Regions from separate parts of the Homo sapiens genome. Here all the other regions are linked to region 3. A link means that fine-mapping ties the variant in region 3 to the plasma level of a protein whose gene starts in the linked region. Region 3 holds a variant in brackets. A gene starts in each other region. All regions are shown on their reverse strands.

Region 1 (11,880 bases), not on the chromosome of region 3:
CACACACACACACACACACACACACACACACACACACGCAGAGTCTGGGCTAAAGGCTGGAGCTCCTTGCCTCCCTAAAGGTGAGGCAGTTGGCGTCCAGTCTTGCCCTGCATCCATTTCCATCACAGTGTTTATTGACCATGTGCCAGGCATTGTGCTAAGCACAGGGGAGACAGTAATAAAATTACTGCCTCTACAGAGCTCCCCGACCGCCCGAGTGCAGCCTAGAATGCGCTCATGAGTTCACCGATCAGTCATCTCCCCATACCATCTGCCCTATTATGCGTTCTAGAATGCCCAGGATGGAGGAGGCCTTTTTGTCAGGAGCAAGGCTGGAGTGGAGCTATGCCAGGCCCAGAGCTGGCCCTGCGAACCCTGAGCCAGCCAAGCCTCGCCCAGGCCAGCTGCCCTGGTGCAGGGGTGCAGGCACAGACTGGCACAGGCAAGCACAGGCTGTCATCAGCAGGGGCTGGTCCTGCAAGGCACCAGCACATGGGGGAGTGGACCACTGGGGGGTTCGGGGGCACCAGGGGGAGTTGGCTGAATTGTCAGTCCCAGGAAACAAAGGGCCTGGGGGACAGCTGGGGGACAGAAGGCTATGAGTGGGGCTCCAACACACGACAAGGTTTTCTGGGATAAGGCCCCCCGCATGGAGCCAGTCAAAAAATAAAAGGTACACCCTCCACCCCAGAGTTCTCCCTACTGGGATGCCCAGCTCCTGGCCCTGAATCTGTCTCCCCTTCTCCCCAGTAATGGAGATTGGAGAGCAATGAGAGATTTGGCAACTTCCGATGGATGGTGGTAGCAAAGGGGAGTTCAGAGCCCAGCTGTGGGCAGAGACTAAGTGATTTATTATCAGCCTACAAAGTACTTGAGGAGCCCTTCAGGCCCCCGCTTGACCTCTATCCTATAAAACAGCACACTGGTTAACAGGGCAGGCCATTGAGTCAACCTGCCTGCTGCTGTCTAGCTAGTATAACCCTAATAAAACTAACTAGTATAACCTGGTTATCACAGTCGTTACTTAACCTCTCCCAGCCTCACTCTCCCATCTGCAAGAATGGGATGAGAAGGGCAGGACCCGCCCCATGGGGCTGCTGTGAGGTCAGCACCATCACAGGCTCATAGTGAGTGCTCAGGAAAGATCAGATCTTAGAACTGAGAAATCTCACAGCCGTGTGTCCGCAGCCACTGTGCCTGTCTGGCTTACTTCTATACAGTCACAACGTCCAGGCGGCACTCATATGTATTTAGGAGACTGACAAACCCACAATCTCCTGGGCAGGTGCCTCCCTCCTCTTACGCCTCAAAGGTGCAATGGTCATAGGTAAGCACTAGCACAGCACCCCAGACTAGGGCACAAGGACACAGCCCCCATGCCAGAGTTATACCTGGTACAATGTGCTCAGGGGGTCACGCGGCCAGGACAGGCACTCCCAAGCAGGTACTCCTTCTCAACAGCCCTCACCTCCTGCCTGATGGGATCTAAGATCAGTACCTTTTCCTTTGCCTAAGACAAGAATTGCCTCCTGGGACAGCACCATCATCCTCCAGGAAGGTCTGAACCATCCCCATGCCCCTCTGGTCAGTACAGGGCTCTGTGGTGGCGTGGGTGAGGGCTGCTAGGATCTCAGCGGGCCAGGCCAGGCTGCAGCTGGCAGGGGTGGGGTGAAGGATTGTGACTGAGGGGTCTCTGTGGTACCCTGAGCTGGAGACATCCTTAGGGCAGAAATGGGGACATAGGGACCTCCTCAGCCCCAATGGGGACCAGGGGTGTCGTGCAGCCCCGTCCTTCCTTAGTCCCCTCTGTGAGCTGCTCAGCTCTCTCTGCAGGCTCTTTGTGATTGCAGCTGCTTCCCCGAGGCCCAGCCCTGGTGCTGACGTGCCCTCTGGGGAGAGCTGTGGCTCCCAGGCTCATGGATTTGTTTGATCTTCTAGCATTGGGCAGGGGGGAGTCTGGCCCTTGATCTGAGCCTAGAGTCTTTGCCCCTGCAAGAGAGACCTACTCTAACAGAGAGACCCTTTAAAGTAGGGAGTGGACAGAAGAAGAGAGGCTTCCATCCTCCTGGGAAGCTCAGGATCAGAAGCCAGCCACCCCCAGACCTTAGGTTTTCCTACTTGCCTGCCCTGCTCTGTGTGTGGTGTGAGGCAGTGAGTGAGGGCTTTAGAAGGATCCCTTTTTGAGATGCCAGGCGTAAGAACAATGGTTTCAACTTGTTTCTGAAAAAGCAAATCAGGAAGAAAATTTCCTCGTGCATTAGCAGAGCAATTTCTGCTTGTCCCCCAACTCTGCTGCAAGGAGGCTCCCCCCAGTTCCTAGACAGCTTCCTCCAGGGTGGCTCAGAGCTTAAGCCTGGTGGGGGTGAGGTCCAACCTGCTCCTCCTCTCAAGCTAGTTTCCTTTGGATTTGGGGTCCAGATTAACTTCACCTCTTGGGCAGCACTGCAGGAAGGCTGCCCTCCAGCCAGGCACAGGGTGGGAGAACCCCTTGGTCAGGGTGTTCAGGGTGGCAGGCACTGAGAAGATGTGGGCTTAGGCTGGAGGAAGCCCAGCAGGTTTGACTAGATGGGTGTGTGTGAGGGGCTGGGGTTGACTTCCCCACCTACGTAGTGAACTGAATGTCTCATTAGGTAAAAAGGACACTGAGATGCGTTTGGGCCTGAGTGTGTCCTGGGATGGGAGGTGTTCAGGTTTTGGATGAGAATATCACACTCCTTGCTTTTGTTTGCATTCTCTTTGGTAAACAAAGAAACATGGGCTAATCTTGTAGCAAGGAATCATCAAACTAAGAAAGGACTTACTCTAGGATGGTTACCGTCAGGATACGGAGCCCACAGAAACTCCCATAAATGTTCCAGGTTAGCAACAGCCTCTGGGTGGTTTGTTTAGATTGGGGTTGTAGTCCTGAAGGATGAGGGGGTGGCCAGCATGCATGAGGGGATGAAAAGGATGTCTGCCTTCTTATGGATTCCTGAGTCACATCCACCTTTTACCATTTGAAAGAGGATTACTAGAAGTTGGAAGAAATTTACAGGGTCAGCCAGCCCAACCTTTGCCTCTAGGCAGGACTCTCTAACCTTGGACCAGACCCCAGTTCTCCACACCATCCTTAGAGTCATCTGAAAGGAGACTGCCCCACCTCCTCATGGCTCACTCTTCTAGCCAGGAAGTGTCTCCTGCAGTCTAACTTAAGTCCCTCTGGCTTCCCTGGCATATTCTTTGCTCTGGTTCTTCCTCCCCTGCATATCAATCACCTCTTCTCCAACCCCCTGGTTCTGCCCTAGGAATCCCTCCAAAAATACAAATACCACCCACACTCAGGCTTAGAGATTGTCTTTGAAATACGCTTTCTCACCAACGTTTGGCTCAAGGAGGTTTCTGAAGAGGGCACCATGCATCCTCCAAACCACCCCAAATGCGTTGCTTCCCTGGTGACTTTAGAGGCAGAAAGGATGCCTTGGGGTACACCTGTCTATGTACATGCTCCTAAGGAGTAAGTTTGGTCAGCCAGAGACGAGATGTGCAATCACCCCGTTAAGCACAATTCCTCGGAGGCCCATCCCACATGTGTCTCTATTTGAACAACTGCTGGCAGAGAAGGTGCTGGAATGGAGTTGCATAAGGAGTGAAATCTGGCAGGGGAAATGGTGGCGGCGGGAGGCTGAGGGCTGAAGCCGGTGGAGTACACGCGATGAGAGAAGGGAGTGCGAGGAAAGAAGGAGTAGAGGAAGGGAGGAGAGTAAGAGAGAAAGAGCCGGGAATGAGAGCAGACTCCTGGAGTCTGAGGCACTCATCTGCATAAGGAGTGTGCCTCTGCTTCCCTCACCGCTCATGGTGTGAGCACAGTGGTCTCTGCACCTGTGAGGCAGGTGGACCTTGGGTGACTTTGACATCATCAGGTCAGGGGCCCTTTCCTGTCTGTCTCACCTCCTGCCTCCCTCTTATTCGCTGAGGACTTCCACGGGAGATTAGGAAGGACTCTGACCTTGTGGCAAAAGCCCTGTCCATGGTTCTGCAGCTTGGCTAGAAAGGGGTTAACTGGTGGGCACCCTGGGGAGGGGCTTGGATGCTGCTGTCTTTAAGGGGAGAGCTCCCTTCTCCCAAGGCCAGGAGTGAGGGCACCTGTTGTGACCTCCAGGCCATCTCCCTGTCCAGGTGCGATCACAGCAGCCTCTCCCACAGGTGGCCCACCTTTTGCTGCACTCGATCTCCAGTGGCTCATCCGGCCCCTCTGAGTGGGACCAGGAGGTAGAGAGACTCGGAGGCTAAGTGAGCTGAGGCGTCTTTGGCCAGACGGTTGGGAGAGGAGGCCGAAACTGTTGCCCAGACGAGACCAGAACATCACCTGTGCACTGGGTTTCTTGGGCTGTTCCTCCTCCCAGCTCCTTCTGAGCAGAGGGAAAAGATGCTGAAACCCACCTTTCTCCAGGGCTGGGGCCATGGCATGCACAACCCCACTCCCTCCTGGCCTCACTGGACCCCCCCCCCCAGGACACAGGCTCAACCCCCAGGGGTCTGGGGCTAGAGGGTGCCCGTCTCCATCCCCAAGTAGCAGCAGGATTCTCCCCTTCCATAGGCACTGCCTTCTCCATGCCCCGCTGCTTCCCAGACCTGAGAGACCCTCTTGGAGAAGGTGACAGGATTCAGCTCTGGACACTCACTGGCTGGGGCTGCCCCCCACCTCCAGCCCATTATGTAAGCCCCACGGTGCTGGGCAGAAGGATTGCCCTCTCTTTCCAGAACTCCCCAGCTCTGCCCCTTCCCTTCCCCATACCATTCTGGCCCCAGCCCCTTTCCTTACTGGAAAGCCAAACTTTGTGCAAATTCTTCCCTCCCACCAGTGAGGATGGGGGGGAGGGATTTGAGGAGAAGCTAAGGTTGGGAGGGGGAAGGGAAGGAAAGGAATTTCAGCCCGGTAGCCCCAGCCTCTCGCCCTTTGGGATGTGACTGGCCTCAGGACTCTCCTCCCCGAGTCCCAGTTCCTGGACAGGCCCTTGCCCAAACTTGTGCTCCACTCTCCCCTCTCTCTTCCACAGCCCCCCTCTCCATCCAGCTGAAGCAAGACTTTGCAAAGAGGTCACCCTGCAGAGGTAGACCCTGGGTGACCTCAAAACTGGGGACTCCGGCTCAATTCCATGCAGGGACTTCTGGGGCAGGCCAGGGCCCAGGGCCTGGCTGTATGGACTGGTCCTGTCCTGGACCGGGTGCCCAGGGCCGGCCCAGGAGAAACTGCCCTCTCCACAGGCAGCTGCCACTGCCCGCTGGCCAACTGGAATTCCTGGACACACTCCTGGGGTCCAGCTTTTCGGCCAGGCTCGGCCTGAGAGAGCCCTGCGGGATGCCGCCCACGTAGACAGGGCGGAGGGGAGCCCCAGCACCCACCCTGGGGCTGAGGGGAGAAGTCAGAACGGCCCCAGCCTGCCAGTGTTCCTGTCCCTGTTCCCTCCCAAGTTACAAGGGGGATATTTACAGGAACTGAGCCGGGAGCCCCGGCCCATAACAGCACGCAGGGAAGTCCCTGGGTTGGAGGAGACAAAAGCGGTTGGCACCTACCTGGGGCGAGAGAAGGGTGTTGGCTGGGGCAGGTGGATGCTGCCCGAGTCGGTGAGCCGGGGCCGGCCGGGCCGCCAGCCCCTGTCTGGGCCGCTGTCCTTTGGGCCCTGGCGGCCTCAGCCGCTCGCTGTCCGGGTGCGGCGGCGGCCGCGGCGGCGGTGGCGGGTGAGGGCGCGTGTGTGTGAGCGCGCCCGGAGCCACTGCAGCATCTCTGCATCAAGATGTGCTCCTCCCTCTCCCAGGCTCCGCTCACTGGCTGGCTCTGGTCCTCAGCCAACGCTCGGGGGCCCTGGAGATGGCTTCCTTCTGCCCCCCTCCCACCCCACTTCCGTCCCCACCCTCCTGGCTTTACCTCATTTGCTGTCATTTAAGGACCAGGGAGCGAGCCCAGCGCGCGTCTTCCATAATGCATGGGCCGCTCATGGACAGGCCGCGGGGCGCTGTCTGGCCCGCCTGCCCTCCCGATCCTGCCCAGCCCCACTTCTAGTCCCCCTGCCCAGGGCTGAAGGGGCAGGAGAGGGGCGGGGTGAAGAGGGAAAAGAAAGTGGCTCTTACTCCTCAAACCCTGGAGACCCATGGAGCCAAAACTCCTGGTTTCCCCAGAAATCCCCTATCCGAGGAAGAGATCCAAATCAGAAATCCCAGCTTGCTGTGTGGGGCAAGTGGCAGGGAGGGGCTGTCTCTGTTGCCCGGTCCACCCCATGTTCCTCTTTATTGTTTCCCTTGTTCAAAAGTAGTTTGAGCTTTTTGTCAAAATATCTAAATATTAGAGGACATTTAAAAATACATAGTGAAAGTCCCTCAACCACTACTCTTAATAAATCTAAGTACATGCCCCCAGGTTTATTATTTTCGTGTATACAATTACATGGGTTAGTAGGGTTATTTCACACAAATGTGATTACATAAAACAGTAGGATTGGCCAAAGACTTTTAACTGTGTAACTGATCTTGGACACTTTTACGCATCAGTACGTTTGGATCCAATCCCATTTTTAAGCAACCAGCAGTGTGATGTCATGAAAAGCTCCCTGGATTAGGGGTCTGGGTGTCTGAAGCATACTCTGGGCTCCACAACCGACTGGCTGTGTGTGCTTGGCTAGGTGCCCTGCCCTCTCTGAGCCTCGCTGGTACCTGAAGGGATTAAAGATGGACACAGTCCTGCCAGCTCTGAGATTCTAAGTGCTCACCCTTGTCAGCGATGCCTTTCTCCTGCCCTGCTCCGGTCACGTGGGGGAGTGCCCAGGAAGGCTGTGGCCCGGAGGCGGAGGGACCAGCCATCTGCGGCACCAGTCGGCCCTGTCAGGCTGTCACTGTTGTCTCACCCCCCTCTGATCTGCCTGCTGTCCAGCTTGCACAGGCAAGACCGGTGAGCAGTCCAGATGCTGCAACAGCTGGCAGGGCCAGGCCAGCCTCCCAGTTTTAAATGGCTATACCTGTCAAGCCTGGATCATGGCTCCATGTCTCCCTGAGTGGAGGAGGTCCTGGGGACCTGGGCCAGAATGAGAGGGTCTGGAAAAGGAGAAGGAGTCGGGGAGGTTCTGCTGCTCAGCCTCCAAGGCTGGAATGTCTGCCCAGGTCCCACATGCGCTCCCCTCCTTTCCTTCTGAGCCCCTCCAAAGGGCTTGCCCAACTTGAGAGATAGTCTTCTTTGTTCCTGATGGGGAGGACTTGGATTTTGCTAATGATGTTTCTTAAATAATGTTGAATGCTGTTATATAGACAGACACATCAACCCCTTGCCAGGATATCTTTCCCTTCCTTCCCCTGCCCACACTGTCCTTGCCTATCTGTATGTCTGAGGGCTGGCACATTGGCTCTGAGCTCCTGAGGTGAACCTTGCTCTTTGGCACCATTCAAGTCAGCCTGGGCTCCAAAGAGAGGCTCTGCAAGTTCTCTCCTAGCAGAAAACGGCAGGAACAAGTCCTTGCCAAGAAAAGGATGCTATGTCTGCTGCAGGGGGCTGACGGGCCAGGAAATAGGCTGGCCCAGGAACCAACAGTCTGGAAATGCTTGCAAGGATTGCTTTAGACGGAGACAGCTGTCTTTGTGACTCTATTTTAGGACAGCTGCTGCCCTGTGGTGGGAGCTGGGTCTCTGGGGAGGGTCGTTAGCACAGGTGACTTGGGTCTTAAAGACTCTCAGATCTCAATGCAACCAGCATGCTCCATGTGGACTCTGGCAGACACAATAAGTGAAAACAAGAACATTTGCCAAGCCTAGACTTGGATGGGGAGACAGTTCCCAAAGTCTCATCTTCTCACTTGTCTGAAGCTCTCAGTGAAGTCTAGTATGAATGAGTTTGGGGAGATTAGGGGGATCTGCACTCCCAGTCTCTGAGATGCTCCTGTTCCTGAGGAGAGAGTGGGGTGGGCATTTGGGGGTGCAGGCTGAGTTTTGCTTGTGGGGCCCATTAGCTTGATAATAACAGAAATAATATCTGTTTTGAATGCCTCCCACATGCCGGGAGCTGTGCTAAATGCTTTACCTGAATTACTTGCGCAAGAGGTCCATGTTGTTATTATCCTCACTTTTCAGATGTTGCTCAGTAAGAGTAAGGAACTTGCTCAAAAGAAATAGTAAACAAGTGGAACCCTGGGCAACGTGGCGAAACCCCGTCTCAACAAAAAACACACAAAAATTAGCCAGTGTGGCAGTGCACACCTGTAGTCCCAGCTACCTAGGAGGCTGAGGTAGAAAGATCACCTGAGCCTGGGAGGTTAAGCCTGCAGTGAGCTGTGATCGTGCCACTGCACTCCAGCCTAGATGACAGAGTGAGGCCTGGGATCGGCCTCCAGCATCCTGGCTTAGCCACCGTGCCATGGACTCCAGCTACCTACTGTCTGTTCTTTTGAGGTGGGCAAAATAGGGGGCAGAACAGTTTCTTCTTCTTTGGTGACATCCAGAGCCCACAATCTTCAGTGCAGCTGACCATAAGGGCCACCTCTCCTTTCTGTGGCTGATCAATATGACTCCATGTTGTCCAGAGCTGGGACTCCACATCTCAAAGTTGAGTCCCCACAGACTTTCAAACAGGGCAAGAAAGGGCCAGTGAAGATAATCAGGTGGCTAGTCAAATGGCTTATAAATTTGTCCGCAAACATGTGGTGCTCCCTTGGTGGTGGTGGGTGGGGATCAGAAAGCATTTTGAGGGCCACCCAACCCTGCCCAGACCATCTGCTTCTTCCTACTGTAGCCACACAAGATTGATAGCAATGGAATCCAGTGGGTCTCTAACCGATCAAGAAGGGACCTCTAGGCCCCATCCCTGGGGACAAGTGGGGAGGAGATGAGACCCTGCCATGGCCCCAGGATGCTGCAGCTTTGCTGTCTCTTTCCTCACCACTCCCCCGCCTCACCTCTCCTTTCCTGGCCTCTCCCGCCACCAGCATCTTTGCCCAGACCCTTTTCCCAGGAGGCCATGTATTTATGGAGCAGCTCCTCTGCCTGGAATGTAGGGATCCAAGAGCCAGGGGATGCGGTCTTCAAAGTGCCAGTGACCTTTTTGGAAGCAGTGTGACAGTGGTAACAGGACTGTCCATCCACAGCTCTGGGGAAAACTGATATGGCCATAAGGAAAAGCTCTGCAGACAGACCCGTTTGACACCCAGTCCTGCTACTGAGGAGATGTGAGGCCATGGGCAAGCCACATACCTCTTCACCCAGAATATGGGGATGAAGACACATACCTCACTGAGTTGATGTGAGTGTTGAGTTACACGTGAAGTAGCTAGCACAGCAGGTGCTCAATAAATGTCAGTATTTCCCTTTTGGGATTTAGCCTCCCTCATCTGTAAAACAAGGATATGAGGCAGAGCAGTAAGGGCTGCAAGTGGTTGGGGTGGCTCTGGATTTGTAGTCAAGAGAACTGGACTCTGTCCCAGCTCTGTCACTCCTACCTGGATGACTCTGGGCAAGTAACAGAATGACACTTAATCGCCCAGATAATCCATTTCTTCACCAGTAAAATAGGAATGATCCTACTCCTATCTAGGATGGTAGTGAGGATATGTGAATTAAACATAATGGTTTTTAAAAGCACTTTGAATTGCAAAGTGCCATATCAAATACTGATGGCCATTCCCTCAGCTATGCAGTCCAAAAGGTAGGGATTATCTCATCAGTCCGTATTCTCCCAGTCCCCCACCCTCCTGTTTAGCACAGTGCCTGGTGCATGGTGGAGACTCAATAAATATTTGTTGACTGGGTGAATGAATGAAGGAGAGTAGCTATAGTAACCATTCAGAGGATGAGGAGAGAGGGAGGTAGGATGTGGGTGAAGCTTTCAGTGGGGGTGGGTGGGTGCATCTTGAATTGAGCCTGGATGGACAGAGAGGAGGTGGGGAATGTGTTTCTGGCATGGGGGCATGTGGTGTGGCAGGAGCCAAGATGTGGGGCCTGGGAAGGCCATGATTTGTGTAATGCCTGGAGAAGCCAAGTTGACCTAGCAGGGGTGCTGGAAGGAAGATCTCAATGCCCTGTCTGCATTTGCCTTCCTAATTTCATGTGAGGGCCCAGAGGGGTCTGTGGCCTGGAGGGGCCTAATTATTCTCTTTGCCATTTCAACCCAGGGCTCTTGCAGCTCCTTTTTCAGGCTTATAATAGATGATGCTAATGTCATTATTAATATTTAATAGTAATGATGCTAATAATGCCCTGCATTTATGTGGTCTCTCCAAAGAGCTCAAAGAACCCTGAGTTCTTTTTTTATGAAACAATTTGGCTGGTGTGGAAGGTGGGAGGGCAGGAGGGCAGGACAGTAGAGAGGGATTGAGTCACAAAGAAAGCAAAGCCAGAAAGGTGAAATGATTGGGCCAAGGTCACAGAGCAGTGGAGGTGGGGCTGGGCTAGGACTGGGTGCGTGGGTTCCCTGCCTGGAGCTCTGTCCTTGACTGCCCCAGGTCATCTGGGTTTAAGGAGGACGTTCCTGGTGGGGACATCTTTTGGTCCCGGTAAAAGCCATGCCATCCAGAGGATATGACAGAACAGTCTTGGGGGCAGCTGTGACCCTGGAAGTGGGCTGGGCTGAAGAGTCGATAACCTTTTGCTCTGTCTGCCCTTTACTAAGCCTGCCCGGGGTGGCTAATAGGCAGCCATGGAACATGGGAGCTGGAAGGGGCAGGTGGGGACATTGGAGTCCTTTACTAGATTCTGCAGGCCTCCCTGAGCCTTAGGCCAGACCCCTGTTTTCCAGGATCTCTGGGTGTCTGATGTACAACCTCTTGGAAGCAGTTTCAATCAGCCCACGTCAATGTGGAATCTCGGGGCTGCTGTGTAGCGTTACACAGGGAGCTCCTTCATGAAGAACAATGTCAGTGGTGCCCCCGGGAAGGAGACAGTGCAGAGTGGTTGGAAGGCCTTGGAGTCAGACAGATCTTGATTCCAATTCCACCCACCTTATTGATTGGCTGTGTGACCATAGGCTTCTAAGACTCAATTTCATCATCTGTAAAGTGGAGGAGAGGCTCTGCTTCAGAGAGCTGCGTGGATCAGCCGAGGCGAGGTACACATACATGTTGGACAGTGGAGGAGGCAGCGGGCATTTCAAGGTTCTGGCATCAGTGAAGGGAGTGTCCAGTGTGGGTGATGCCAGCGGTGGCGTCCTGGCTGGACGTTGCCCAGATGTGACCTCAGCCTGTCTCTGCTGGCTGGCCTGTGTTGGCTCCTGCCCATTTCTCAGTCGACTTCTTTAGTCTTTCCATTGATTCTGTGATCGACTTGATAGCCTTCTGGTGAATTCCATTTCTGTTTACAATGGCCAAAGTCTATTTATGCTGCCTGCAACTGAGAACCTAGACTGATTCAGGACTGAAAGCTTCTAGCACAGTGTTTGGCACAAAAGATGTGTTCAATAAACAATAACCAGAAATTGTTAGAAAATATGGTATTCATTCATCCATTCACCTATACCTACATACATTCATTTAACAAGCAAATGCCAAGTACCTCTTGTATCAGGTATTGCACCAAGTGCTGGGATACAGAGGAGAATAAGGCACGGTGAGTGCTCATGAGGAGCTCACAGTTTAATGGTGGGAATGACGTGTACAAATAATCAGAATCCAATCCTGCAAATGCTATAACCCAAGTTGGCACGAAGTATCATGGAGGGGCATCTGCCTTTGCCTGGTGAGGCTTGGGAATGAGAAAACATTTTAACTGTGTCTTGAAGGAAGACTCTGAGTTTACCAGGTAGACCAGGTGTTTGTGGTACGAGCTGGAGGAGGCAGGGAAGAGATGGTGCCAGGAAGAAGCAACAGCTTGTGCAAAGGTGACAGCATGGCAGATTTGAAAGGGAGTTGGTTAGCATGCCTGGAGTTGAGGGTG
Region 2 (3,496 bases), not on the chromosome of region 3:
CCCTCCATAGCCCCACCCCCACGGCTTGCTGCGGCCACCGAGGCTGACCGCTCTGCGGCTTCGGCCGGAGGGGGAGGGGTGGACTTTCCCCGAGCGCAGCGGGAAGGGAGGGCCACACAGGGCGATCGGGGATCTGGGCGGGAAGAGGGTGGATATGGAGGAGCAGGTGCCCAGGGAAGAAGGCGCTGTGGGAGACACTTCCCTTGCCTCGACTTCCCAGGGGGCAGACAGAGCTGGGGACAGGTGTTTGAGTAGGGTAAGGAGGGGAATCCAGGAGCGGTCCTAGATGGAGGCTTGGGTGGGATAAGTGTAAGGTGAAGCTCAGAGGAGGGCACGGCCTGTGTACTGGGCCTCGGGCAGTGAAGAGATGGCAGAGGGAGGGGTCCAGGCTTTGGGGAGCGGTGCTCGGGGTCCCCTCCCAGCCGGACCGGAGCGGTCCCGAGCTCCACCTCCCGGCCGGAGGGGGGGCGGGGAGGCGGGCGGGCCGGGAGGGAGGGGGGAGGGAGGGGGCGGGCCGGGCTGTGCGCTCCGCTCTCTGCTGGCTCCGCCGCCGCCGCCGCCGCCGCCGCCGCCGCCGCCGCCGCCTCACACACTCGGGGAGCGGGAGCGCGGCGCGGACGCAAAGCCGCCGGGCTGCTGCGCCCAGAGCCAGCCGGAGCCGGAGCCGGAGCCCGAACTGCAGCTCCAGCCCCAGCCGTGCGGAGCCGCAGCCCAGGCCGGGGCCGGCGGCGGCTCATGGACAGCGGGGCGGGCGGCCGGCGCTGCCCGGAGGCGGGTAAGGATCCGGCGGCGGTGGAGGCAGCAGCGGCTTGGGGCCCGAAGCGGTCATGGCCGGCGGGAGCTGAGGGAGGGGCGCTCGGCGGAGCGAGGCCGCGGGGGCCCAACACGAGCTCGGCGCGAGGGGGCTGAGGTGGGGGCTGCTGGGAGCCCATAGCAGGGGATGCGGCTGAGGGATTCCGTCCTCCCAGGTCCGCGGCGAGAAGCCGAGGGAGGGGAGGGGGTGCTGAGCAGAACCCTAGTCCCCGCGTCCCAAACCTGGGCGCGCTCGGAGAGACGGGGATAAGGAGACTCCAGGAGCGCGCGGCGTGGAGGATGGGTTTGGGGAAGCGCGCGGCCCCCAGTTTGGTGGGGGTCTCCCGGAGGACGGAGCAAGCAAGGACCGTTGTCCACAACACATACATACACACTTGTTGGGCAACTACCTCGGCTCACTCAGCCGCTTCCAGCTTCTCGCGGGCACCCAGAGGGCCAGACCGTGGACATATATACACACATACATACATCCCTGCATATGTGCACACAGACATACCTCCCGCACACCAGCGCCCACTGGGGCACCGTCGCCAGCTCAGAATCCGCTTCAGTGTCTGCACGATCAGCAGCACCGACACACAACCCGTGGCTTTACAGAGCAATAACACAACCGGGTGTGACACCCCGCGACGTGGACACACAAACACAATCTCGTGCCCTCATGTACGAGTGTCACAGCCACAGTTCACTAGATGAACCCTCAAAACCTAGCCACCCCCCACATTCCTTTAAGGAACACACCCTAGCATATATCATCTTACCCACTTCTTGGCCAGAACATAGGTACACAGCACAGGTCTCCTTGCACCCCTCTACTGCACCCACACAAACACACAACCCAGTATCTCAGCACACGCTTGATGGCACACACTCTAACACAGGAATTGGCACCTACAGCAGCGCCTCACGGTCACAAACACAGAATCCACTGCTTCACCCATCTTAACACTGGGTGTCACACACACCTTAAACCAACAGTGTCACATTACATTACACCCTGCAGCGCATACACACAAACACACACACTCCGTTCCTCTCTCTCGGAGTCCAGATTCAGGCAGGAGAAGCCGCCGGGGTCGTTCGGCGAGCCCCAAGCGCCCCGCCACGTTAATCGCGACATTATTATTGTAAATATCGGCACAGCGGGAAGGCTGGGCCGGCCTGCCGGCTTCCCAGTCGGCGCCTCCCCAACCCCCACTCCCGGGCCGAACCGGCTGGTGTTCCGGGAACAAGCTGGACCTGGCTGGCCAAGCCATCCCGCCTCCCCGGAGCTCTGGGGCCCCAGGTTCCTTTGTAGAGGGTGCTAGCCTGGGACGGTGATTGCGACCCTCTTCCAGCCATTTAGCTGAGTTTTCTGAGCCACCTGGGTCTCCAGCACACCTGGGTCCCACACACCTTGGTGGGTCCCGCACACCTGGGTTCGTCTCACACCTGAGCGCCCCCTCCGCCTGGTCCCCGCTGTAGGCCAGTGTGTGCGCGGGCAGGCCCTGGAGCCAGAACGGAGATCGCGGCAGGCATAGGAGCAGAATTTGTAGGCGAGGTGGTCTCGCACCCCTTCCCCCCAGCTACCCTCTGTAAGTCAGAATTCTGGCCTCAGTTTCCCCAACAGTGGTCGGCTACTATTTCTTCTGCCAGGAAAGACTGGGGGCGGCACTGAGGCCTTGGAGGATTGAGCGTAGGGCAAAAAACCCCCTCTGCTCGCCACGAGAGGGTCGGTTTTATGAGAATGTCCCCGCCTAGCCGGGTTCGCGGCTTTGTGATTCCGGCGCCGGCTCCCTCCCCGCCCCCTCCTGGCGCCCGCTGCGCCGCTCGCGCCGGCTCCGGCTTGCGGGGGACCCTAGGCCGAGGCCGGAGATGCCGGGGAGGAGGGATTCCCCGCGGTGGCCTGGGTGCGGGGGGCGCAAGGGCTCCCCCCACTAGCCGAAGCGCGTTCTCACCACGCCGCGCCCTAGCCTTGCCTTGGGTTCCTGGAGGCTGGGCGCTGCCGGGGTGGGGGTGGGGCCGCCAGAGCCCAAGAAACTGCCGCCGTCCCCCCCGCCACCCCCTAATCTCCGCAACACACACACACACTCGGCGTCCTCTGGGAGGAGTCGCTCCGCGCGCTGGGTGTGTGCTGGGAGCGCCCGCTGACCAAGGCGGTGCGGACTGGGGCTGCTTGGGTCGCTTCGTGCAGGAAGACGCCGCGAGGCTTCTAGCACCTGCTCTGGGTCAACCCTCGGGAGCTGCCAGGGAAGGGGCCGCCCAGAAAGTTTTTATGACAAGCCGGAGGTCTAGCTGTGTTTGTAGGGGGTGGGGGGCGCGGGAGTAGGTGGGTGTTACTTTATTGACGTTAAGGTCTGGGGGAATTGGAACCTGTAATTACAACTAGACTAGGGCATGGGGTGGAATCGAGGGGAGAGGCAGACTGGCCCCCAGAGGTAGCCAGAGGCAGTGTGATAGGGAGGCAAGTCTGGATTCAGTTCTGGCCGCATTTAGTTTTTACCCCTTCTCCTACCCACCTCCAATTCCCAATTCCAAAAGGGACTTCAGCTGGAAGTGGGTGTCTTGCTGGTCTGCCATCTTCTTAGCAGAGGGGCTGCTGCTGTGGCTACTTCTGCAGGGGAGCTGGGCAAGCGATAGTAAGCTAATTGCTGAGAAGGGGGTTGAAGGGCCAGGAGGGGGCCGCGAGGGTGGGGGAGGAGCT
Region 3 (9,811 bases):
ACTGCAACCTCCACCTCCCGGGTTCAAGCGATTCTCCTACCTCAGCCTCCCAAGTGGCTGGGATTACAGGCGCGTGCCATGATGCCCAGCTATTTTTTGCATTTTTAGTATAGACGGGGTTTCACCATGTTGGCCAGGCTGGTCTCAAACCCCTGACCTCAAGTGATCCGCCCGCCTTGGCCTCTGAAAGTGCTGGGATTACAGACGTGTGCCACCATACCTGGCCCAGGGTTTGTTTTTTAATTACATAAGTGTGTATATCACATTAGTAAAATTAAAAATTAGGATCAGTACTAAAATCTGTGAAGTTTAAACAAAATGCAGCCAACCACCCCACAAAGAATTTACCCCATGACCTTGACCTCGTTGAAACAAAGATTTATCAGGCTACAAGAGGCCACTGGGGCAAAAAATAAATCCAAATCTTGGGGAAGGGATGTCACAGAAGATGGTGGTGTGGGAAACTCCAGGAATTCATCCCTCCATCTAAGCAGCCATCAAATGGACAGGAACTGACTGAAGTAACTGCAGGTGCTCCTCTACTCATGATCAAATTAGGCCCTGTTAAACCCAATGTGAGTTGAAATATGCTAAGTCAAAAATGCACTTAATACACCTGACCTACCAAACATCACGGCTCAGCGTAGCCTACCTTAAACGTGTTGAGAACACTTACATTAGCTTCCAACTGGGCAAAATTGATAGGGACAGGAGGCAGAGAAGTGCTAGGTAGAGAAGGGCAGGATCCCTGGCGAGGGCTCCACCCTCGGACCTGTGCCCACGGACCTAAGTGGGAACAGGCACTCCTGTTTTCATGCGCAAATGTTACATTTCCAAGACCACTATGATTCACCACACCCCGCATCCTGTGCCCATAAAAACCTGAGACCTTAATGGGCATAGACACAAGCGCTAAACATTGAGAAGAGTGAAGGAATAGAGCAGTGGAGAGCAGTGGGGTGGCGCAGCAGAGAAAGAGAGAAGAAGGACATCTGGACACCAAGGGGAGTTTGGCCAGCAGTGGTTGGAGAATAGTCTGGGGGGTTAGGCAGCCTGGCTCCAGGGGAAGACCACCTTCCCACTCCACTCCCCACTTCCAGTTCCCCATCCATCTCGCTGAGAGCCACCTACACCACTCAATAAAACCTTGCACTCAACCCTCCAGCCCACATGTGATCTGATTCTTCCAGTACACTGGGCAAGAACTCAGGCTGTCACACTGCCTCCCTGTCCTTGTGATAAGGCAGAGGGTCTATTGAGCTGACTAACACAAGCTGTCTGCAGATGGTATAGCTGAAAGAGCACACTGTAACACACGCCCACTTGGGCTTCAGGAGTCCTAGATGCTGCCGTGGGGTGGAGCCCAAAAGCACTCCCCACAGCCTCTGCACCTGCCCATCTGCATGCTGCATGCTCCCCCCTAGGGGTTTGAGCAGCAGGGCACCAAAGGAGCAAGCCTCATTCCTGTCGCACCCCCTGCGAGGGTCATAAGGGAACTCTTCTATTTCAAAATCATCTAACAAAACCTATTTTATAATACAGTGTTGAGTATCTCGTAATTTATTGGATATGGTACTAAAAGTGAGAAGCAGAATGGGTGTATGGGTATTCGAAATACATTTTCTACTGAATGCACCATTTCTATTTCACATCATCATAAAGTGGGTAAATCATTATGTCTAACAATCCTAAGTCAAGGACCATCTGTATTTGGGAACTAGTCTAGTCAGAAACTTGGAGCATCCAAGGGAGAGCTTGATAAAGAGGCTGGTACATTTCAGCGAATTTCAGCTTCTCCCTGTGGTTATGGCTGTGTCAGGCAGCTGTGAAGGGGGAAGCAGCCCACACGCCCAGTGCAGCTAGGTGAGGCCAGGCCGGGCAACAAGGATTTAGCCCTCCAAATGTCAGGACTGTGTGTTCTGATTGGTGCTTTTATTTGCTTTCATCACTTCTCTTCAACTTAGTACTGGAAGTTCTAATAAGAGCATGTAGGAAAGAAAAAAATAAATAAAAGCATCCAAATTAAAAAGGAAGAAGTGAAATTATCTCTGTACACAGATGGCCTGATTTTAAATGTAGGAAGTCCTAAAGCTTACACACACACACACACACACACACCACACACAAATACCACATACACATACACAATAGACACATACACACCACACACACACACCACACACACATACATACACACGCCACACACACACACATACACACCACACACACAAACTGTAGCACTAACAAATTTAACAAAGTTGCAGGACACAAAATCAAAACACAAAAATCAGTTGAATTTTGATACACTTGTAATGAACAATCTGAAAATAAAATTAAGAAAATTCCATTTGCAATAGAATCAAAAAGAACAAAATACTTAGGAATAAATTTAACTACGTAGACAAAAGACTTGTCCACTGAAAACTACAAATGGTTGCTGAAAGAAAAAGACCTAAATAAATGAAAAGATACCCTGTGTTCATGAAATGGAAGACTTGATATTGTTAAGATGTCAATATTATCCAATATAATCTATAGATTCATGCAATCCCTATCAAAATCCCAATGATTTTTTTTTTTTGCAGAAATGAAAAACCCCATCCTAAAGTTCATATGGAATTTCATGGGAGTCTGCACAGCCAAAACAATTTTGAAAAAGAATGAAGTTGAACGATTCACACTTCCTGATTTCAAATCATACTACAAAATGACAGTAATCTAAACAGTGTGGTACAGGCATAAGGATAGCCATATAGGCCAATGGAATACAATAGAGAGGCCAGAAATAAACCTATGTGGGCAGTTGATTTCCAACAAGGTGCCAAAAGCATTCAATGAGGAAAGAACAGCATTTGTGCTGGGAAAACTGGCCATCCACAGGAAAGAGAATGAAATTGGACTCTTACCTTACATTAAATACAAAAATTAACCCAAAGTGGATCAAATGCCTAAACATAAGAGCTAAAAACTATAAAACTCTTAGAAGAAAACGTCAGGAAATAAAATCTTCACAACATTGGATTTGACAATGATTTCTTGGATTGGATACCAAAAACACAAGCAATAAAAAAGTAGATAAAAAGGCCTTTATCACAGTTAAAAACTGTGTCCACCAAAGTACACTATCTAGAAAGTGAAAAGACAGCACAAAATAGAAAATATCTGTAAATCACATATCTGATTAAGGGATGAATATCCAGAATATATTAACAACTACAACTCAATAACCACAACAAAACCAAATACAAAATGGTCGGTGGACCTGAACAGATAATTCTCCAAAGAAGATATACAAGTGGCCAATAAGCTAAGCACATGTAAAGATGCTCAACATCATTAGTCATTAGGGAAATGTAAATCAAAACTACAATGAAATAGAATTTCACACCCAAAAGAATTATTACTTTAAAAAAACAGAAAATAACAAGTGATGGTGAGAATATGAGAAATTGGAACCCTCGGGCATTGCTGGCGGGAATGTAAAATGGTGTAGCCACTGCGGA[A/G]AACAGCTTGGCAATGCCTCACAAAGTTACACTATAATTATCATACGATCCAGCAATTCTACTTCTAGGTATATACCCAGAAGAACTGAAATTAGGGACTCAAACACATATTTGTACAACAATGTTCAAAGAAGTTTTACTTATGATAGCCAAAAAGTAGAAGCAACTCAGGTGTCTGTTAGCAGATAAACAAATGTGGTATGAACATACAGTGGGATATTATAGAGCCGTAAAAAGGAATCCTGATACCTGCTATATGTACAACCTTTCAACATTTTGCTAAGTGAAATAAGCCAAACATAAACGGACAAATATTATGTGATTCCACTTATGTGAGGTATATAGAATAGGTAAATTCAGAGACATAGGAAGAAGAGAGTTTACTAAGGGGTGGGAGGTGGAGGATGGAGGAGAATGGAGAGTTATTGTTTAATGGGCACAGAGCCCATTGGATGTTGGATGATGAAAAGTTCTGGAAATACAGAGTGGTGATAGTTAAACAACATGGTGAATATGTTTAGAGCCATTGAATTGTACAGTTGAAATGACTACAATAATAATTGTGTTATGTATCCTTTACCAAACTTTTTTAAAAATCCAACTCATGCCATCCTGTCTACACCCTTCTACTAAGTTCTGGTTCTGAATTTTGGTTAGCTATTGATGATGGTGGTTATTTTTAACTAGTCCTTTCTTCAAGCTAAAATATAAAGGAAATTCTCATTTTTTTATTGGCAAGACAATCAACTGTGTCATTTCCTCCTAGACTTTCTCAAACACCAGCCACCTCCTACCCACTCAGTTTCACGTATGATGAACTTAGTGTCTGCTTTGCTCTGAAATAGTTCCAAGAAAAATAGCTGGGCAAAATTTTTCATAACCTGTTACATCATTTCTCACAGATAAAACTGGTAAGCCCTTCAGAAATGGTGTTTTCAGTAAGCCTATCTTTTAATGAACAAATTTATTCAACTCTTATCAACATAATTCCTACCAGCCAAAAGAAAAAAAAGATATTTTTGAGTAAAAATTTAAAAATTTAGATGTTCTTATACCTCATATTTTTCAGTCCTTACCAAAACCATAGCAAAACATCAACAATGCATTTACAGTTTAATAGAAAACTACTATATCATAGCAATCCAATTTCTTTGCATTCAATTACTTACATAAAATTAGGCTTTAATTGTAACTGTCTTCAGATAACATATTTAGACTTATTGTAATCAACAGTGTGTAGATTCATAGTATTTGAAGGACCTTTGAATTTTGTATTTCTATAACCAATACTTTGTTTCATTTGGTTTTGTCTTGGCACACATCGTTTTAATATACTAAATTTTACAAAGTAATTTAATTAAAAGGCTATTTGACCCATTTAATTTTTGAAACAAATTTTTTTTTTTTGAGATGGAGTGTCGCTCTGTCACTCAGGCTGGAGGGCAGTGGCGCAGTCTCAGCTCACTACAAGCTCCGCCTCCTGGGTTCACGTCATTCTCCAGCCTCAGCCTCCCCAGTAACTGGGACTACAGGCACCCGCCACTACGCCTGGCTAATTTTTTGTATTTTTAGTAGAGATGGGATTTCACCGTGTTAGACAGCATGCAGGATGGTCTCGATCTACTGACCTCGTGATCCACCCGCCTCGGCCTCTCAAAGTGCTGGCGTGAGCCACTGCGCCCGGCAGAAACAAATTTTAAGAATAAGATTAAACATGTGTTTATAATCTGAAAGTGACCTATACTTTACAGATGGAAACCAAGACACAACAATGTTGGGCTGGTTCTTCAGAACAACACTTACTATGTAAGATTATGTATAATTTTTAGCAATTTGAAACGCAAATTTTCTATTTATTCACTCAAATATTCTGAACACCTCTAAGGTATCTGAGTTAAATATTTAAAAGAAAAAAGTTTTGTAGAGAAAGAAGGCATTCCTTAAAAATCCATTATTTCCATTTCAATATAAGAATAATTACAAGTTAAAATAAAAAATAATCTTATTAAAAATAGGCATATCTTGGGAAATTAAGATGTGTGTATATATAAATGCACACTTTCACAGCAAGTGTTACTTTAGTAAATATTATCCTCAAATTCATATAAAACCATACCTAGTCTATAACAGGCACTCAAATTTGTCAAATGACAAATTAATGAAATTTCCAAAAAATAATCTTCAGGATATGGTAATATATGTAAAAGCTCTTGTAAATAATTGTTAATACAAATATCTCAGGTTACTAAAGCTATTAATCACTAGTACTCAGGGATGTAGAGGTTGTGCATTGTTCAACCTGAAGGGGCGCTGTATGATTTAGAATTCATTAATTAATCTCACCTGTAAACATTGGAAACACCTTTCGAATGCAGTTGGATCTGGTTCTCAGTGTCTCTGTGTGGGCAGGTGTACATGGCTCTCTGTTTCTCTATTTTTTCACCTTCTGACTCTACTGTTTGTGTGTTTGGATTCGATTACTACAGAGCACAGAAGGTGGATGTGAGACAGACAACCAGGAAGCTGAACATTGTATAAGAGCTGTGACGGTTAATATTCAGTGTCCACTTGATCGGATTGAAGAATACAAAGTATTGTTCCTGGGTGTGTCTGTGAGGGTGTCGCCAAAGGAGATTAACATTTGAGTCAGTGAATGGGGAGAGGCAGACCCACCCTCAATCTGGGAGGGTACCATCTCATCAGCTGCCAGCACAGCTAGGATAAAAGCAGGCAGAGGAACGTGGAAGGACTAGACTTGCTGAGTCTTCTGGCCTCCATCCTTCTCCTGTGCTGGATGCTTCCTTCCCTCCAACATTGGACTCCATGTTCTTCAGCTTTTGGACTCTTGGACCTACACCAGTGGTTTGCCAGGGGCCCTCGGGCCTTTGGCCACAGACTGAAGACTGCACTGTCGGCTTCCGTATTTTTGAGGTTTTGAGACTCGGACTGGCTTCCTTGCTCCTCAGCCTGCAGATGGCCTACTGTGGGACTTCACCTTGTGATCGTGTGAGTCAATACTCCTTAATACACTCCCTTTCATATATACATCTATCCTATTAGTTCTGTCCCTCTAGAGGACTGACTAATACAAATGCATCCTCTCATAATGAAACAGCCATCACAAGAGATTTGTTTAAACATAGAATTTTAATTAACATGTAAAAACAGCCCCATTGTAAAACAAAATGTCTTTAGCCATTTCATTTTTTTCTTCTATTATTTACTATATCTTCTATGGAGTATAAGTAGCCATTTTTAAGTTTTGTAGCTTCTAAGTGGTATATTGCTCTTTTTGTGAACAACTATTGATATATTCACTATGTAAGGCCCTGCTCCAAGGTACACAGCACAAGGCAATTATGTATTAGGCAAACAGCATAGTGCCCAGAACATAGTAGGACTTCAGCAAGCAATTTCATTTCCCTTTTCTTTCCTATGCCTCATTGCAATTGTCATTCAGTGAAATGGGGCCCTAATAAGAAAAACAAGACGAGATAACATTTACACATTGTAATTTCAAACATTAACTTTTAGAAAGAAAAGGCACTAAAAAGTGTATTACAGGTATTAGAATTTTTTGTAAAATTATAAAATAAATAAAATTTTATAAAAATTACAGCATCAATAAAATTTTATAAAATTATAAAACTACTTTATAATTATAATGCAATAAAATTATTAGACTATATATTAATAGCCTAATCATAGATTAATTTTTAAATGCACATTCCTTTAACTAACTGTACTTGACTTTTTTTTTTTTTTGAGACAGAGTCTCAATCTGTTGCCCAGGCTGGAGCATAGTGGCGAGATCTCAGCTCACTGCAACCTCTGCCCTCCGGGTTCAAGCAATTCTGATTCAGCCTCCCGAGTAGCTGGGATTACAGGCATGCACCACCACTTTCAATGGCAAAAACCTCAATTACTTTTGCACCAACCTAATAATTTTAATAATATATATAACATTTAATTACAGTGTAGAACTATCAATGTTTTCGCAGTGTAATTTGCTGTAATATCTATTAAATCCCATAGACTTGCAGTCTATAAACATGTATACACTCTAAGTAAAATATTAAATGAAATTAAATTAGCTACTCAATTTTCCTCCTACACATAATCTTCTGTACATGCCTTCATTATTTGTATAGTGTTGTGACTTCCGAAAATATCAGGCACATTCATATTAAAATATTAGATACAAAATGCATTCTAAACTCAAGTAATACTTTTGAGTTTATCTGAGCACTGTTGCTAAGTTCTAATATGGAGATAAATATATACTTACACAAAATATTTTCATATTTAGGAATATCATAAATGAATCCCTTGATGACAGGCTTTTCTTAATAATAAAAAGATACCCATGGCAGAATTCGAAAGTAATTACTTGTATTATAATTTTTTTTTTGAGACTCTTGTCACCCAGGCTGGTGTGCAATGGCGCAATCTCAGCTCATTGCAACCTCTGCCTCCCAGGTTCAAGTGATTCTCCTGCCTCAGCCTCCCAAGTAGCTGAGACTACAGGCGCGTGCCACCACACCCAGCTAATTTTTGTATTTTTAGTACAGACGGTGTTTCACCATGTTGGCCAGGCTAGTCTCGAACTCTTGGCCTCAAGTGATCCGCCTGCCAAGGCCTCCGAAACTGTTGGCACTTGAGGCACTGCGCTGAGCCTTGTATTATAATTTTTTTAAGTTATAAGTCTTGTAAGCACCTGCAGCGTTGATTGATGAAGAGAGAGATGCATTGTTAAACAAGATGCCCTCAGGCTTTCCTTTAAGGAATAAAGATTAATAGGACACTCAGAAAAGTAAACACATAATGTAAGTGTGAATAAAGTGGTGTAATTCAGATTCTATGGGAACTCAGAGGACAGACACTCAAATGTCTGATGAATGAAGGCTTGTGTCCATTTTAATTTATATATTCAGCAGATCGATCACTTTTGAATACAATACTCCTCGATGAAAAAGTATAGTCTGAAGTAACCTTAAGATTGTATGTATTATTTTTCACAAATGCAAAGTTGAAATGATTATTCCCAGAGGGTGAGCAGGGCCACAGAAAAGAATAAAACAGGAAATTTCTAAAACTGCATTGAGATACTTGTTTCTTGGAGACTTGGTACCCGTTCCAATGCTTAGCATTTATCAAGTTATTATGGTTTGCCAGAAAATGTGCTCAAAGGACTCTTTACCCTTTAACCCTCCTAACCCTATTAATGTAGTACTAGTATTATGTTCATCTTTTACATGTGGAAACGGGGACCCACAGAGGTTATAGAACCTACCTCAAATTAGAAAGCTGGAAGGCAAGCTTTTAACAACTGTGAGTAAATCTTCTTTTACAGTGTGAGAAAAATCCTAAAACAGAGGGAAAGGGAGACAGGGTGGCAAGGGGAGAGGTATTTGGTGGAGCGTAGAATAACACAACGTCAAATTCTCTTTTATTTTTTTTAGATGGGTGTCACTCTGTTGCCCAGTCTGGAGTGCAGTGGCATGATCATAGCTCACTGTAGCCTTGACCTCCTGGGCTCAAGCAATCTTCCTGCCCCAGCCTCCTAAGTAGCTGGGACTATAGTTGCAGATCACCATGCCCAGCTAATTTTTGTATTTTTTGTAGAGGTAGAATCTCTCCATGTTGCCCAGGCTGGTCTCAGACTCCTGGACTCCAGTGATCTACCTGCCTCAACCTCCCAAAGTGCTGGGATTACACGTGTGAGCCACCACAGCCGGCCATATGTCAAATTCTTAAGCTTCATTCTTAAGCCATATGTCTCATTCTTAATGATTTGTTATCACAGATCATTGAAGAAACTGGCTACATAAATCATTACTCTTGCATTATCAGCCTCTCACAAATCTCTCTAGCATCTGAAAATTACTATCAAATGAACAGTGCTGACTGTTCAGAGTGTCCCAACAGGGTGAAAGCAAGTTGCATGACTCTGTATCTAATTATTTTATAACATCAATATATCCATGATATAGTATCACATAAGACACTGATACATTGGCTATTATATTTGTAAGCCGAACTTTTAATTTTAAACAGGGCTTGTACTTTGATTATTTATCAAAGTATCAAATTCCACAAATAAAATATTCTTTTACTTTGAAATCTCTGTCTTCACTTTATGGCTTTTTATTATGAAACTTTATCTTGGTATTACTGATGTACCTTGACTTCATTATACTAAACAACACTCATATTAGTACTTCAGTACTGGCAATACAGCTAAGCCTTAAACTGAGCCAAATATCTGTTAAAGTGAATTGCTTTTTATGCTGAAATCAATTTATTGA

Alleles and levels. Positions count from the first base shown, and alleles are read on the strand shown. Strength reflects both the effect of a copy and how common the allele is.
In carriers of allele A in region 3, the plasma level of the protein whose gene starts at base 5,736 in region 1 tends to be lower than with G alone (weak association).
In carriers of allele A in region 3, the plasma level of the protein whose gene starts at base 588 in region 2 tends to be lower than with G alone (weak association).

Evidence for each region. A credible set is the group of variants that fine-mapping cannot tell apart. PIP is the posterior inclusion probability: the model's chance that the variant is causal. Protein levels are from antibody-based Olink assays in UK Biobank. Linkage for the fine-mapping came from a reference panel and not from the study's own genotypes, which makes the PIPs less certain.
Region 1: CNTN2 starts here. The variant in region 3 is the best candidate, but not a certain one, in a credible set for the plasma level of the CNTN2 protein (UK Biobank, PIP 0.51).
Region 2: it holds the start of PCDH1, and the variant in region 3 is the best candidate, but not a certain one, in a credible set for the plasma level of the PCDH1 protein (UK Biobank, PIP 0.70).

The regions. Positions count from the first base shown.
Region 1 is chr1:205,037,068-205,048,947 of GRCh38, reverse strand. CNTN2 (contactin 2) reads right to left here and starts at 5,736. Exons shown (of 23, transcript NM_005076.5): 1 at 5,554-5,736. RefSeq lists enhancers at 1,235-1,739, 5,806-5,950, 5,898-6,042 and cis regulatory regions at 5,878, 5,970.
Region 2 is chr5:141,875,502-141,878,997 of GRCh38, reverse strand. PCDH1 (protocadherin 1) reads left to right here and starts at 588. Exons shown (of 5, transcript NM_032420.5): 1 at 588-775. The coding sequence starts at 736. RefSeq lists enhancers at 590-1,339, 1,606-2,290.
Region 3 is chr10:17,797,689-17,807,499 of GRCh38, reverse strand. TMEM236 (transmembrane protein 236) reads right to left here. Exons shown (of 4, transcript NM_001098844.3): 4 at 6,632-9,811. Among named protein-coding and RNA genes, the nearest start is that of MRC1, 6.8 kb to the left of the region's middle. The variant A/G (reference allele first, on the strand shown) is at 3,504.